Homo sapiens: one gene and its partners. The protein of the gene in region 4 interacts with the protein of the main gene of each other region in a pairwise test. Each region holds a gene or a part of one and is shown on either strand. Other genes may lie near its edges.

Evidence for each region. Proteins that work in one complex are often made in the same cells at the same time.
Region 1: the proteins of ASB3 (region 4) and PRKN interact in binary tests that used the Homo sapiens proteins (3 or more experiments, as listed by UniProt).
Region 2: the proteins of ASB3 (region 4) and JPH3 interact in binary tests that used the Homo sapiens proteins (3 or more experiments, as listed by UniProt).
Region 3: the proteins of ASB3 (region 4) and GLE1 interact in binary tests that used the Homo sapiens proteins (3 or more experiments, as listed by UniProt).

The regions. Positions count from the first base shown.
Region 1 is NC_000006.12:162,437,767-162,441,266, forward strand, and holds part of PRKN (E3 ubiquitin-protein ligase parkin), read right to left. Parts: intron 1-3,500. UniProt on the Homo sapiens protein: Functions within a multiprotein E3 ubiquitin ligase complex, catalyzing the covalent attachment of ubiquitin moieties onto substrate proteins. Substrates include SYT11 and VDAC1.
Region 2 is NC_000016.10:87,693,008-87,696,507, forward strand, and holds part of JPH3 (junctophilin-3), read left to right. Parts: intron 1-1,629; exon of another isoform or gene 1,630-3,134; intron 3,135-3,500. UniProt on the Homo sapiens protein: Junctophilins contribute to the formation of junctional membrane complexes (JMCs) which link the plasma membrane with the endoplasmic or sarcoplasmic reticulum in excitable cells.
Region 3 is NC_000009.12:128,507,719-128,511,218, forward strand, and holds part of GLE1 (mRNA export factor GLE1), read left to right. Parts: intron 1-1,157; coding exon 1,158-1,379; intron 1,380-3,500. UniProt on the Homo sapiens protein: Required for the export of mRNAs containing poly(A) tails from the nucleus into the cytoplasm. May be involved in the terminal step of the mRNA transport through the nuclear pore complex (NPC).
Region 4 is NC_000002.12:53,671,954-53,675,453, forward strand, and holds part of ASB3 (ankyrin repeat and SOCS box protein 3), read right to left. Parts: intron 1-3,500. UniProt on the Homo sapiens protein: Probable substrate-recognition component of a SCF-like ECS (Elongin-Cullin-SOCS-box protein) E3 ubiquitin-protein ligase complex which mediates the ubiquitination and subsequent proteasomal degradation of target proteins. Recognizes TNFRSF1B.

The sequences.
Region 1 (3,500 bases), on a different chromosome or scaffold from region 4:
CTTTTTTACTGCTGAGTAATATTCTAGGGTGTGGAGGTACCAGTTTGTTGAACCACAGATCCACTGAAAGACATCAGAGTTGTTTCCGTGTTCTGCTAATGTGAATAAAACTGCTATAAACATTCATATACAGATTTGTGTGTGTACCTACGTCTTCATTTCTCTAGGATAAATAACTAAGAGTATAACTCTGTCATCTGGTAAATACATATGTCATTTTTTATGAAACTGCTATATTCTTTTCCAGAGTGGTTCTACCATTTTATATTCCCAGTAGCAATTTGCGAGTAATCCAATTTCTCCACATCCTCACCAGCATTTGGTGTTGTCTTTATTTTGTATTTTAATTTACCTACTTTACCTATTACTCTAGATATTTCTTTATACATTCTTAACTTGTCATGCTCTACTGCAGTTGCTATTTTGTAGGTCAAGTTTAGAAATCTTACCTTTCCTTGCATCTGTGTTTATGTTTGCCTGAAATGTTTCTTCTACATGTAGAACTACATTAGACAATGCTATAACTTTTGCTGCAACCCTCTAACATAATTTAGAAAACTCAAGAGGAGAAAAACAGTGCATTGTATTTAACCATATTTTTGCTTACTATGTTTTTCCCTCCTTCCTAGTGTTCCAAAATTCCTTTTTTTGTTGTTTCATTTGTTTAGAAAATTTCTTTAGCCATTCTTTTAGGGTAGGTCTGCTGGTGACAAATTCGCTTAGTTTTTCTTTATCTAAAAAAAAAAGTATTGATTTGTTCTTTCTTCCTGAACGACATTTTCACTGGGTATAATATTACAGGTTGGCAGTTCTTTTCTTTCAGCATTTGAAAAACATTGTGCCACTTCCTTCTAGCCTTCATGGTTTCTGATGAGAAATCCACTGTAATTAGAACAATGTTAGCCCTATAGGGAAGGTGTGATATTTCTCTGGCTTCTTTCAAGATCTAAAATTTGTCTTTAGTTTTAAGAAGTTGAATTACGTTGTGTGTTGGTGTGGGTTTCTTTGGGTTTTTCCTGTTTTAGATTCACTCAGCTTTATAAATCCATCTATAACTTTATGTCTCTTGCAAACTTTGGAAGTTTCCAACACTTATTTCTTTGAGCATTTGCCCACCATTATCTTCTCCTTCCAGGAATCCCCTGACACAAACTTTAAATGCTCTGTTGGAGAACCACAGGTCTCTGAGGCTCTATTCCTTTTTTCTTTTTCCAGCCTACCTTTTCTTTGCCATTTGGACCGTGTCATTTCTATGTTCCAACTTCCAGTTCACTGACTCTTTTCTCTGTTCCTTCCATTCTTATGTCAAACCCATCAGTGAGTGTTTTATTTCAGAAATTTCAAACAAGAGGCTCTCCACTCAGCCTTTACTAGTGTTGGTGGGGACAAGGATAGGGCCGCAGTTTTTCTGTTGCATTTGGCTGGAGTAGACTGGTTATTGTCTAAATGTTTTCTATGTTGCTAGGCAGCCCCTTTCTGAGTCCTCTGGATAAAAAACAGGCCATTGTTGGGGATTTCTTCCTTCCTTCCTTTCTTCCTTTTCCCTTCCCTTCCCCCTTCCTTTACCCCTCCCTTCTCTCTCTCTCTCTCTCTCTCTCTGCCCCTCCCTTCCTCTCTGCTTCTTTTTTCTTCTCTTTTCTTTTTGTCTATATATGTTGACATTTCCTGGTTGCCAGCTTCTTCAGTTCCACATCTGAGGTAACGTAGCAAAAAGAAAACTCAAGAAATTCACCTCTGGATTCTTCCTTGGGTTCTAAAATCCCTACTCTGTCCACATTCTTCTCACTACTTTCAGAATCTTCCTAAGCTTGTACAGCGGACCCTTGAATAACATGGGTTGAAACTGCATGGGTCCATTTATATGCAGATTTTCTTCTGCCTCTGCCACCCCTGAGACAGTGAGACTAACTCCCCCTCTTCCTCTTCCTCTTTAGCCTACTCAACATGAAGACAAAGACAATGAAAATCTTGATGATCCACTTCTACTTAATGAATAGTAAGTATCCTCTCTCCTTTTTGTAATGCTGTTAATGTTTTCTCTAGTTTTTTTATTATAAGCATACAGTACATATTACATATGAAAAATATGTATTAATCAACTGTTCATGGTATCAGTAAGGCTTCCCGTCAATAGCAGACTACTGGTAAAGTGTGAGGGGAGATAAAAGTATACATGAGTTTTGTCTACATAGCGGTTGGCACCCCTAACTCCATGACTCCACGAGTCAACTGTACAATATGCAATGTCTAGGCTTTTTAGTGTAGTTGCTGGGAGGAAGAGGGAAAAGTATGCCTACTCCAGCTTCCCAGAAGCAAAATCTGTGCCAGATCATTCGTTTTCAATGTCTATATTTTTTCCATTTTCCTTTAATTTTTTAAAGTTCTTAAAGTCTTGCCAATAACAAAACTGAACAGATGAGTGTGTAATGAAAATAACTATACTCTAACAGTGCTTCTCTAAGTGGCCTGTGGATATGCTCTCCCAGAACTGAAAATTCTATGAAAATTTTTTAGATGTGACATCAATTCTATTATAATCTTACAAATACCCTTTGCCAGTTAAATAGACAAACTCGCTTTTTAAAATTATGACATTTCATAAGACTGTGGTCTCAAGCTATAGTTCCCCAAAGTACCTGAGGTGAGGCACTAAAACTAATTTCCTCCTCAAAGAAGGTGAAACTAAGTGTGAGAGATACTGCTCAGTATGTGGGGTGACCATTGCCTCAGTTTTCCTAGGACACTCCCAACATATAATTTTGTCCTGGAATAATTATTGACAGGGTCTTCTTTTATACTCACAATATCTCATTTTGCATGATAAGCTAATATATATGTTCATATCACCTATGATAAAGAATACGAAACCAGGAGGAAGACACCCAGCAAGCATAGACACCACCCCAGCCATCTCTTCTTCTCTTCAGGACACCAAGGTGTATATTTAACATTCATTAATGGAAGCATTAAGTAGCTCATATGGAAGGTCCATCTTCTTTTTCTCAGCAGCAACTTATTATTAGATATTTTGTGCTTATACTGTGAAATATAGCACCTGTAATGATAATGGGTAACTAAATGATATTGACTAAATAGTTGTAAACATATGTTCTAAGATTATACAAGAATATCTAGGATGCTAAAATTCTGCCAGTTGTACACTTAAAGAAAACATAGCCATCAATTTGCAATTACATGTGTAACTTCCTAGTCTTTACAGTGAAACTCTTCTATGAACAAAGTTTGCCAACTTCTCGGCACCTAAATCATTTAACTGTGATTTAATAGAAGTTCCATAAGTATGAACCTTTCTTTTTCAGTGTCCTCAGACACAAGTTCTCAACAGCCAGCTAGGCATCTCCAAACACACGTACTCAGCTGGCATCAACTCCCATCATGTTGGAACAATGCAGCATCCTTCCCCCAACCAAACCGGGTCTTCAGACTTCCCATTTCCTTCTATGGCATGACATTTTTCTCTAGTTCCCCACCAATGAAAC
Region 2 (3,500 bases), on a different chromosome or scaffold from region 4:
TGGGCCCTTGGCTGTTCTCTGCCCCCTGCAGGCTGGCCCGGCCCAACCAAGTTGTCATGGGGCCCAAGACTCACAATACACCTGCCTGAGGCCACGATGCCACGGAAAGCTGGGCTCAGGGCAGCTTGCTTTCTCTCTGGCTGAGTGGAGGCCCTTGCTGTGTCCACAACTCCACTTCCATCTGCGCCTCAGGTCCCTGATAGGCTGGGAGGTTGCGGAGGGTGTGGGCCTGGTGCTGCTGTGGCTGCAGGTGCCCCCTAGGCAGCACCTCACCCTCTGAGGACCCTCCTCTCTGAGCTGCATCCCAAGGACAGTTTACAAAGCCCTTTGCTGACTGGGGTTCAGCTTATCTGTTGAGCAAACTTTTTCTTTAAAAAGTTTCTTGGCCAGGCACGGTGGCTCACACCTATAATCCCAGCACTTTGAGAGGCCGAGGCAGGTGGATCACCTGAGGTTATCAGTTCGAGACCAGCCTGGCCACCAGGGTGAAATCCTGTCTCCACTTAAAAATACAAAAATTAGCCGGGCATGGTGGCACACGCCTGTAATTCCAGCTACTCAGGAGGCTGAGGCACAAGAATTTCCAGAACCCGCAGGAGGCAGAGGCTGCTGTGAACTGAGATCATGCCACTGCACTCCAGCCTGGGCAACAGAGCGAGACTCCATCTCAAAAGTTTCTCAAGCCAGTGTCTCTAGGGCCTGAGGGCTCCAATCCCCAGTGTGAGGTGAGGCGCTCGGGCCTGGGAGCTGATGCCCAGCATACAGTCGGGGGTGCCCCTGCCAGGTGTGGTGCAGAGCACGGCGGGGGTGTGTGAGACCTGAGGATAGCGTCTGGATGTTTCTCTCACGTTAACGGGAATGAGATAGGCTCATTGGCTGCTCATCCCCAAATCCAAATGGAAAACCGCCATTCGGGCCAGGCAGAGGCAAGTACTCCCACCCGTTGCCGCTGCCGTGTTGAGCCCACCGTGCCGAGTGGTGTTGGCAGGAGCCTCCCGAGGAAGCTGTGCCAACGCAGGAGTGGTCAGAGCCTGTCCAGGCCACAGACGGGGCTACGATGAGCACTGCTGCCCAGGGCATGTTGGGGGCAGCTCCTGGAGACCACAGGGAGGGGAGGTGGGCACCCAGGTGTGGGCAGAACTGGACCAGGAGGAGGAGGGGCAGCAGCTTGCTCAAGGCACAGGGCCTCAGCCACAGGGTGGCGGGCTGGGAAGGGGCGAGGGTGTGGTGGGTTCTGAGTGCCCCATGCAACGGCTGTTTTGGGCCACGTGCTCAAGCAGGCACCCAGGGAAGACCAGCCTAGGTGCTGGCGTGAGGCCCTTCAACATCAGCTACGATGCTGCTTCATCAGGAGCACAGCCTGGGGAAAGAATGAAACTGACCCAGGAGACAAAAGGGTCCCCGGGCCAGACGGTCAAGCAGGAGGCTGCTTCGCTGCCGCGGGATGTGGCATCCAGGCTAGGCAAGGGGACGGCAGGCTGCCATCCCCAGAGGGAGTTCTCCGGGCAAGGCCGTGACCCCACTGGGGCTCTGAGTTTGCATCCTTCCTGTGTGTCAAGAGCAGAGCCGGCCACTGCCAGCCCATAGCTCCCATGGTGCGGCCCTGGAGAGCTGACTTCATGCGGGATGTCTGCTGTTCTTTGCGTAGCTTTACTGAGACAGAAAGCGTGTACTGTTCACTTCAGGTGGCCACAGTGTACAAGTCAGGGATTTTAGTGTATTCCCAGTTATACAGCCATCACCCCCAATTCTATCTAGATCAGCTCCATCACCTTAAACCTCAGGGCCATTGAGCAGGCACTTGCTGTCCCCTCCTCCCCCAGCTCCCGGACTCTGCTTTCTGCCTGGTGCCCAGCTTCTCACGCAGCATGCACTGCTCCTGCGCTTTCTCTGTGGCAGCCGCGGTTGCACGGCCCATGTCTTCCCCGCTGTGTGTTCATCCTCCACTGGACAGCTGGCTCTGCTTCCACTCCGTGGCTGTTGTGAATCCTGCTGCCGGGAGTGTGTGCACACACAAGGTTTTGAGTGGAGGCTTGACTTTGCCCTCTTAGATTTAGGCCTGGGAGTGGAACTGCTGGGTCCCCGGTGTTCTCATCAATTCTCTTCCAGTCTCTGGGAGAGGAGCCAGCAGCAGCTGCTTCGTTGTGGGTGGGGGGAAGGGGGAGGCCCGTTGTTCGGGCTCCCCTCCTTAATGCAGGCCTGAGCAGCCCTCACCTGGTGCCACATGAGCTACTCAGTCTTAACAGACCACCCCATCATGTCTTTGAAATTTGACCAGAGGCCAGACTTGGGGGCTTAAAGGAGTCCATGGAAAACCAGTCTGTTAACAGGGAGGGGGAGGAGAGTAGCCATCCCTGAGGAATGTGCATCCTGGGACCTTCAGGACAAGCCCTGGTCCATCTGTGTCGCACAGCAGCAGGATGTCTGCGTGGTAGGAAGTGGAGGGCTCCGGGGGCTCTGAACAGCTCCTTACCACAGTGGGGTCTACATCTCCTTCCAGGTGGCTGCGAGATGCAGGGCGTGGTGGGGGTGGGGAGAGGCAGGGGCAAGTGTCCTCTGGAAGCAGACTGTGGGCAAGACTGGAGTGGGTGTCCCAGCCATTCCTGGGCTGGGGCCACCGTCCAGGAGGCGTCCATTCCCTGTGCAGCAGGTACTGTATCTGTAGGGCAGCACCCACCCCTGCCGTCCTGGGAGCTTCCCAGAGGGGCCACGCTCCCTCTCCCCCTGCCTGGTGTGAGCAGAACACAGCAGAGTGCAGGACTGCAAGAATCACTGCAGAAGGGCGCCCCCGGAAAAGGCTCTGTTGTGAGACGTGTCCTACCTGGCCCCGGCAAGCACAGGGAAGGTGGCAGCTTGGTCCGAGTGCCCAGGCTGTGCGGCTGAAGGGGGAGTCTGGCACTTGGGGCTCCGGCGGAGGCTGAGGACTTGTGAGCCACTTCAGGGAGGTGGTGGCAGCAGCATTCAGGACCATAACCTAAATCCAAGGCAGCTCGCAATTGGACACAGTCCTCCAGAGCCAGTTGGCGTGAGGGGTTTGTTGAGGAAGGTGTGGTGAGGGGGGGTTTTGTTGAGGACACTGTGCTCACGGACTTTGGGAGTCCTCTGAGTTCCAGGGCCTCTCTGCTGGGCTGCATCTGACACTGGCCATGGCAGCCATGCGGGCCCTTCTGAGATTCTGAGGTCCCAGTTCCACAGGGCAGGAGAAGCCTGCTGACTGGCACAAAGGCCACACGCACCGAGACGTTTGCTTGCAGGGAGGCCTGGGTGGTTCTCTCCAAGGGGACCCTGGGAGAGCTGGTACTCAGGGTGTCGGGGCCACAAGGGAATTCCAAGGGAATTCCAGGACCAGCAACCTCAGACGTACAGGCAGCTGGGGCTTCTCTCCCGCGTCTGGACTTCACGGAGCTCAGGTTCTGGTGGGCCTTTGGTGTCCAAGCGTTTCTAACATCCTCCCGTACGCTTCCACCCCCGAGGGTCTGCTAGCTTGGTGAAAAGACGTG
Region 3 (3,500 bases), on a different chromosome or scaffold from region 4:
CTCTAGTAATAATACAAAAATTAGCCGGGTGTGGTGGTCGACACCTGTAATCCCAGCTGCTCGGGAGGCTGAAGCAGGAGAATTGCTTGAACCCGGGAGGTGGAGGTTGCAGTGAGCTGAGATCGTGCCACTGCACTCCAGCCTGGGTGACAGAGCAAGACTCCATCTCAAAAAAAAGGCTGGGCACACAGTGGCTCACGCCTGTAATCCCAGCACTTTGGGAGGCTGAGGCGGGTGGATCGCCTGAGGTCAGGAGTTCGAGACCAGCCTGACTAACATGGAGAAAACCCCGTATCTACTAAAAGTACAAAATTAGCCAGGCATGGTGGTGCATGCCTGTAATCCCAGCTACTCAGGAGGCTGAGGCAGGAGAATCACTTGAACCTGGGAGGTGGAGGTTGTGGTGAGCCAAGATCGTGCCATTGCACTCCAGCCTGGGCAACAAGAGCGAAACTCCATCTCAAAAAAAAAAAAAAAAAAGACCAGCCTGGGCAACATATCAAGACTCCATCTCTATAAAAAATGAAAAAATAATTAGCTGAATATAGTGGCGCATGCCTGTACTCCCAGCTGCTGGGGAGACTGGTTGAGGTGGGAGGATAGCTTGAGCCCAGGAGGTCAGGCTACAGTGAGCCATGATTAGGTCACTGCACTCCAGCCTGGGTAACAGAGTGAGACCCTGTCTCAAAAATAATTAATTTTAAAAATGAAAAAATATATACATCTAGGTTTGTGTAAGGATGCTTTACGATACTCGCACAATGACAAGATCACCTAACCCTGTGTTTCTCAGAACTTACCCCCATTGTTAAGTGACTGACATTCTACTGATTGTGTATACAGTAGCTTACTTCAGAATTCCTCGTGTTCTGTTCAGTGCTTTAGATTGCTTTCACATATGCTTTAGTGGGAATCTTTGTGCATTGTCCCTTTTTCTGTAGTTAGGGTTATTTAGTCTGATTTTCATTAGAAGGATAGTAGTCTAGGTCATTATCAAGAAACCACTGTACTTTGTTTTCATCTGATTGTTAATACATTACTTTGGGTCTTTGATGTTTATTTATTTAGGCCTTCTTAGATGTTCAGTAAGGCATGTAGTGGATTATACTGAGAACAGTTGACGTGTAAGTTGAGCTTAACCCTATTCTTTTCTCTAGGATGTTTTAGAAGAATGTATGTCTCTTCCCAAGCTATCTTCTTATTCTGGATGGGTGGTAGAGCACGTCCTACCCCATATGCAGGAGAACCAACCTCTGTCTGAGACTTCGCCATCCTCTACGTCAGCTTCAGCCCTAGATCAACCCTCATTTGTTCCCAAATCTCCTGACGCAAGCTCTGCCTTTTCCCCAGCCTCCCCTGCAACACCAAATGGAACCAAGGTAAGGTTGTGATCAGCTTAAGACAAAAGACATGGTGGCTGCAAAGTCAAAATGTTTAATATTGTCATATGACAGTGACCATACCCTAGGGGAAATAATGATTGCTCATTGTTGTAGCTGTTGTAGAGACAATGTTGACAGCACCATTCAGTGTTCTCTTTAGACAGATCCAGAGGGAGAAAAATCCCCTCTATTCTTAGTACCGAGAATAGTATAACTAATTTCATGAGCAATTGGATTTTTTTTTTTTTCTGATGAACGCTGCGTCTGTTTAACTGATATGGTCTCCCTTTTTGTGTTATCTGCTGGAAGAAGGCTTAGAGTGAAATGTATACCTTCTCTTTAAGTTTACATGCCTTCTCTCATTGGTTCTGTAGGAGATTTTACCCTATTCCTGGCTCTGTTTTGTCCCTGCCTCTGTTTTTTTGTTATTTCTCCCACTTAAAAATGCTAAACTGGGGCCATTTCCTCTCAGAAGACCCCTCTCTCTCACTAGAGAGAGAACTATTTTCCTTTCTCTTTCTCTTGCCTATTAAACCTCCACTCCTAAACGCAAAAAAAAAAAAAAAAGTTAAATTGGACCCAACACAGTGGCTCATGTCCATAATTCCAGTGCTTTGGAAGGCCAAGACAAGAGGATTGCTTGAGCCCAGGAGTTCAAGACCAGCCTGGGCAACATAGTGAGACCTTGTCTCTCCAAAATACTTAAAAATTGGCTAGGCATGGTGGCTCGAGCTTGTTGTCCTAGCTACTTGGGACATTGAGATGGGAGGATCACTTGAGCCCAGGAGTTTGAGACTACAGTGAGCTGTGATCAAGCCATTACATTCCAGCCTAGGCAACAGAGTGAGTCCCTATCTCAAAAAAAAGTTAAATTTTGGAAGTTTTTTAAAATTACTTTTTATATACTTCTAGAGGTAGTTTGTGTATATACAAATATACGTGAACATGTCTTCTTCTTCACCCTCCCTTTTTTTTGAGCTGAGGTCTGTCTCTGTCAACCAGGATGGAGTGCAGTGGCATGAACATGGCTCACTGCAGCCTCCACCTCCCAGGCTCAATCCACCCTCCTGTCTCAGCCTCCCGAATAGCTGGGACTGCGTGTGGACACCACCATACTTGGCTATTTTCTTTTTCTTTTTTTTTTTTGAGACGGAGTCTTGCTCTGTCCCCCAGGCTGGAGTGCAGTGACGCAATTTCAGCTCACTGCAACTTCCGCCTCCCGGCTTCAAGCGATTCTCCCACCTCAGCCTCCTGAGCGGCTGGGATTACAGGCACCCACTATCACGCCCGGCTTATGTTTGTATTTTTAGTGGAGATGGTGTTTCACCATATTGGCCTGGCTGTTCTCAAACTCCTGACCTTATGATCTGCCCACCTCGGCCTCCCAAAGTGCTGGGATTACAGGTGTGAACCACCACACCCAGGCTTTTTTTTTTTTTTTTTTTTAAGATGGAGTCTAGCTCTGTCACCCAGGCTGGAGTACAGTGGCATGGTCTCGGCTTACTGCAACCTTTGCCTCCTGGGTTCACGCGGTTCTTCTGCCTCAGCCTCCCAAGTAGCTGAGATTACAGGTGTGCGCCACCATGCCTGGCTAATTTTTGTATTCTTAGTAGAGACAGGATTTTGCCATGTTGTCCAGTCTGGTCTCAAACTACTGACCTCAGATGATCTACCCACCTCGGCCTCCCAAAGTGCTGGGATTATAGTCGTGAGCCACTGTGCCTGGCCAGTTTTTTTTTTTTTTTTCTTTTTTACATAGAAAGTATTTTTTTTCTATCTAGTAGTTCATCTTTTAAAATATTAGTCTTTAAAAAATATTCTTTGTGGCCACGTGTGGTGGCTCACACGTGTAATCCCAGCACTTTGGGAGGCTGAGGCAGGTGGATCACTTGAGATCAGTAGTTCGAGAGCAGCTTGACCACAGTGAAACCCTGTCTCTACTAAAAATACAAAATTAGCTGGGCGTCGTGGCGCACGCCTGTAATCCCATCTACTTGGGAGGCTGAGGCACTAGAATTGCTTGAACCCGGGAGACGGAGGTTGCAGTGAGCTGAGATCATGCCATTGTACTCTAGCCTGGGTAACGGAGCAAGACTCAGTCTCAAAATATATGTATAT
Region 4 (3,500 bases):
TCAAGAGCACAGCTGATACCAGACCAGCTAGTCTGATTCCAGGTATAGGGTTCTTTAAACTCTAATACCCATAGGGCTTGAGACCAATTAATTCTCTAACATCTTCAATATCTTCCAAGCCATAGAAGTTAACTCATCATCGTTTTTAGTTTACTAGTTTAGGTTTAGTTTAGTTTATTCAGAATTAAAGAAATCACTCAAACTGGTGTTTCAAAATGCCAAATAAGAAAGCAAAAGTTATCGATTTTGTACATAAAACCTAAGTCTAAGCTGGGCATTTTCTTAAATCATGAGTCATAGATTCCCTATTATAAATAATAAGATTACAGTATCTATAGTATATAGCACGCACATTTATTTCTAACTTTTTTCATATCCATATCTTACTTAAATTTGACACTTTTCTGTAAACTTAAAGGAGAAATGATGGTTCTCACATGAAAGATGGGAAGACACAGGTAAAGGGGCCACTGGAGGAAGTTGCAGGAATACATATGGAAAGCAGGCCCAAGCTGCAAACACCACCGTTTTCCAAAGGTTTAAGTAGATTGACTATGTTCAACTATCAAGTATAAGGAAGCCCTCTTAGTAGGATCATGAACAATAATTGGTCAGTTAATAGAAACTCACCTTAAAGCAGGTGACCACAACAACCATACATACTTTAAACATTCTAATTTAAAATGGATACATGAACACATCTAGAATGCAACATCTATGGCTTGCAGTTTATTTATGTATTTTTTACTCACCACTATATAAATAAGGACACAGTTTCACTTTCTTTGAGTTACAGCATGGATTTAAAGGCATGTATGAAACAAGGTGAGTGCATAATCCTTCCATATTTTTACAGGTTTTTTTGCTTTCAGTTGTTGTAGCCACGTCTAATTCAATATCTATTTCTGTTCTGTGCTTATCTTTATCAAGTCTTTTGCATTCTACTTTGCCTTAACAGCAACAATGATTCTCTTTTCACACTCATAATTCATTAGCTTGTGCAATCTGGAATTATTTAACTCCAATAATATGCACAACGTAATAAAAAGTTTCAGAAATAAGCATAACTGCTGTTTGGTAAGCACACACCTCTGCTGGTAGGAACACTGGCATTCTAGAGTGTAGCTGGCCAGCTGCAAACACAGAGCATGCCAATGGACATAGTCAGATGGAAATGAAAGAGAAAATGACAAGACTGTTTAATCCAGTGTGTGTTTTTAAAGAGAATTTCTACTTATATTCAGTTAGAGTTTAACAGGCATCTGTTAAATTGAATCTCTTCATTCTGCACATTCTTAGGAACATGAATACTTACTACACAACCAGAAGGAAGATAAAGGATGGCTGTGCAACCCGGAGGAGAGCTGCTCACATGGAGATAAGGGATCCTTAATGATGCTCCAGCTTCTCAGAGTGGACAGACTACACTGGCTTAAAATTCTATGGGCTGACTGGGAAGATTCCTCCAGATACCCTAAAACTTAATGTAGTGCTGACCAGCTTTTCTAGATTATGTGACTACATCACTGGAGGTCTATCTTTAAAGCTTAATAAATCATTTGTTTATGCTAATTATGTGTAGAAGCTTAACCATTAGTGATCAAGCCACACTAGACCAGTTCGCATTTGTTAGGAGAAGCGTAACTGACTTGCCCACTGAGATGTGGCACATCAACAACATAGCTGTTGTTAACTAGATCTCAATGATTTGACTCCCAGTCCAGGGTTCTTTAAACTATGATAAGCTCAATATAATTCTCCAACATCTTCTAAACCACTGAAACTATCATAAATTTCAGAATATCTTTCCATTTAATAATAAAAAAGGAAAAGTATAGCTACTTCAGGTATTGGTTCAAATTTTAATTGCACCATTTTGGTTTTCCTTCTAAGAGCACAACAGATCACTGGCCTAATGAACAATTAGAGGTAAGAACTATGTTCAGCTGAACTGAGGGAGTGTTTCATGTGTAGATTATTAACACAGACAATAATATGCCTGTCAGTGCCATTTTTGTTTAATATGCCAGTAAATACTAAGGGAATTTTATAACCATATATGCAATATTTCAAAGCACACAAAATCCCTATGAAAGTTTTAGTGATGCATAGTTATTTCCAGACGTGTTGCCACTAGGCTAGAAGATCAAGCCATGCCTTGAATTTATAATACGAAAAAGGCCACAGAAGCTGTATGTAAAACATACTTTCATGAAAACCTATTAAAACTATATTTTAGTTTTGTTAAATACATCTCCATGTTCTTGGATTATGGCAGTGATTGTAACCTAGAAAATGACGTCTGAAACCATGCTACACTTCTAAGTCACTTTTCTGACCCAATCATTTTTATTCAATATGTTAAACTTAGTTTATCCATAGATCTATTAGCAGATGAGTAATATTTAACTTTTAATTCCTATACAGAATTCCTCTATTTTGTTCATTTTGTTATATGTACTGGCAGAACAATCAAAATAGAAGACTACATGTTGTTATACAAAGTTTTGTTAAAATCAAAAGCACACACAATGATCAAAATAAACGTCACAATTCTTAATTCATTATGCTTATAAATGCCAACTTTACTATAGCACAAAACTATATCTATATCATACACACCCACTATATTTTCTACATTCATCTTTAGCCTTCCCTCAGGCCAATGTTCAAACAACCTATCTGCCTGAACTACATTTCTCTGGTTCCTTTGAAATGTTTTGCACATCAAATGCATTTATCTGACTTCTGAGACACCTACTACCATTTTTATTTTCATCATTAATATATTGTCTTTCTCGTTGGTATCCATCCTTTTGTTCCCAGTTTTTCTTAATTTACTTGTGTTGTCTCTCTCATTGACTATAACTAAAACCGCTAGAAAAAACACAAAAAGCAAGTACCTGAGAACTCTGAAAAACAAGTAATAGATTAGGACATGAAGTCAAAACAATAGGAATGGCCAGTATAAAGGAATGACCAGTAGAGGCAATGAATGGATTAAATGGAAAAGCACCATCTAGTAGTAACACCTGTGCTGGCGCTGAGGTGCCACTATTAACTAGCTGTGTGACCCTGGGCAAGTCATCTAAATATTCTGACTTTCAGTTACCTTTCCATAAAATGAGAATAATGCCTCATCTACAAAATGGGCATAATGACACTTCCCTGCATCAAAAGGCTGTTGATGATGTTCAAGTTGGAACACATTTGCAAAAGCATTTCATAAAGTGAAACACCACACAAATCCCAGGCACCACAGAATCTAGTGATCTCCAAATGTTTTGATTACACACTAAATTAGTAAAGTCTCTGACCACAGAATCCAATATATATTTTACATATAAATTACATGTATACTATTAACCAAACATTATTTGTACTATAAAATAAAATAAGCCAATATAAAATAAGATATATACTTTAAATAATTTCATTTTTAAAGGTATAAGACTCCTTTAAATATTAATATTTTAACAAGAACAAGGTGATTGACTAGG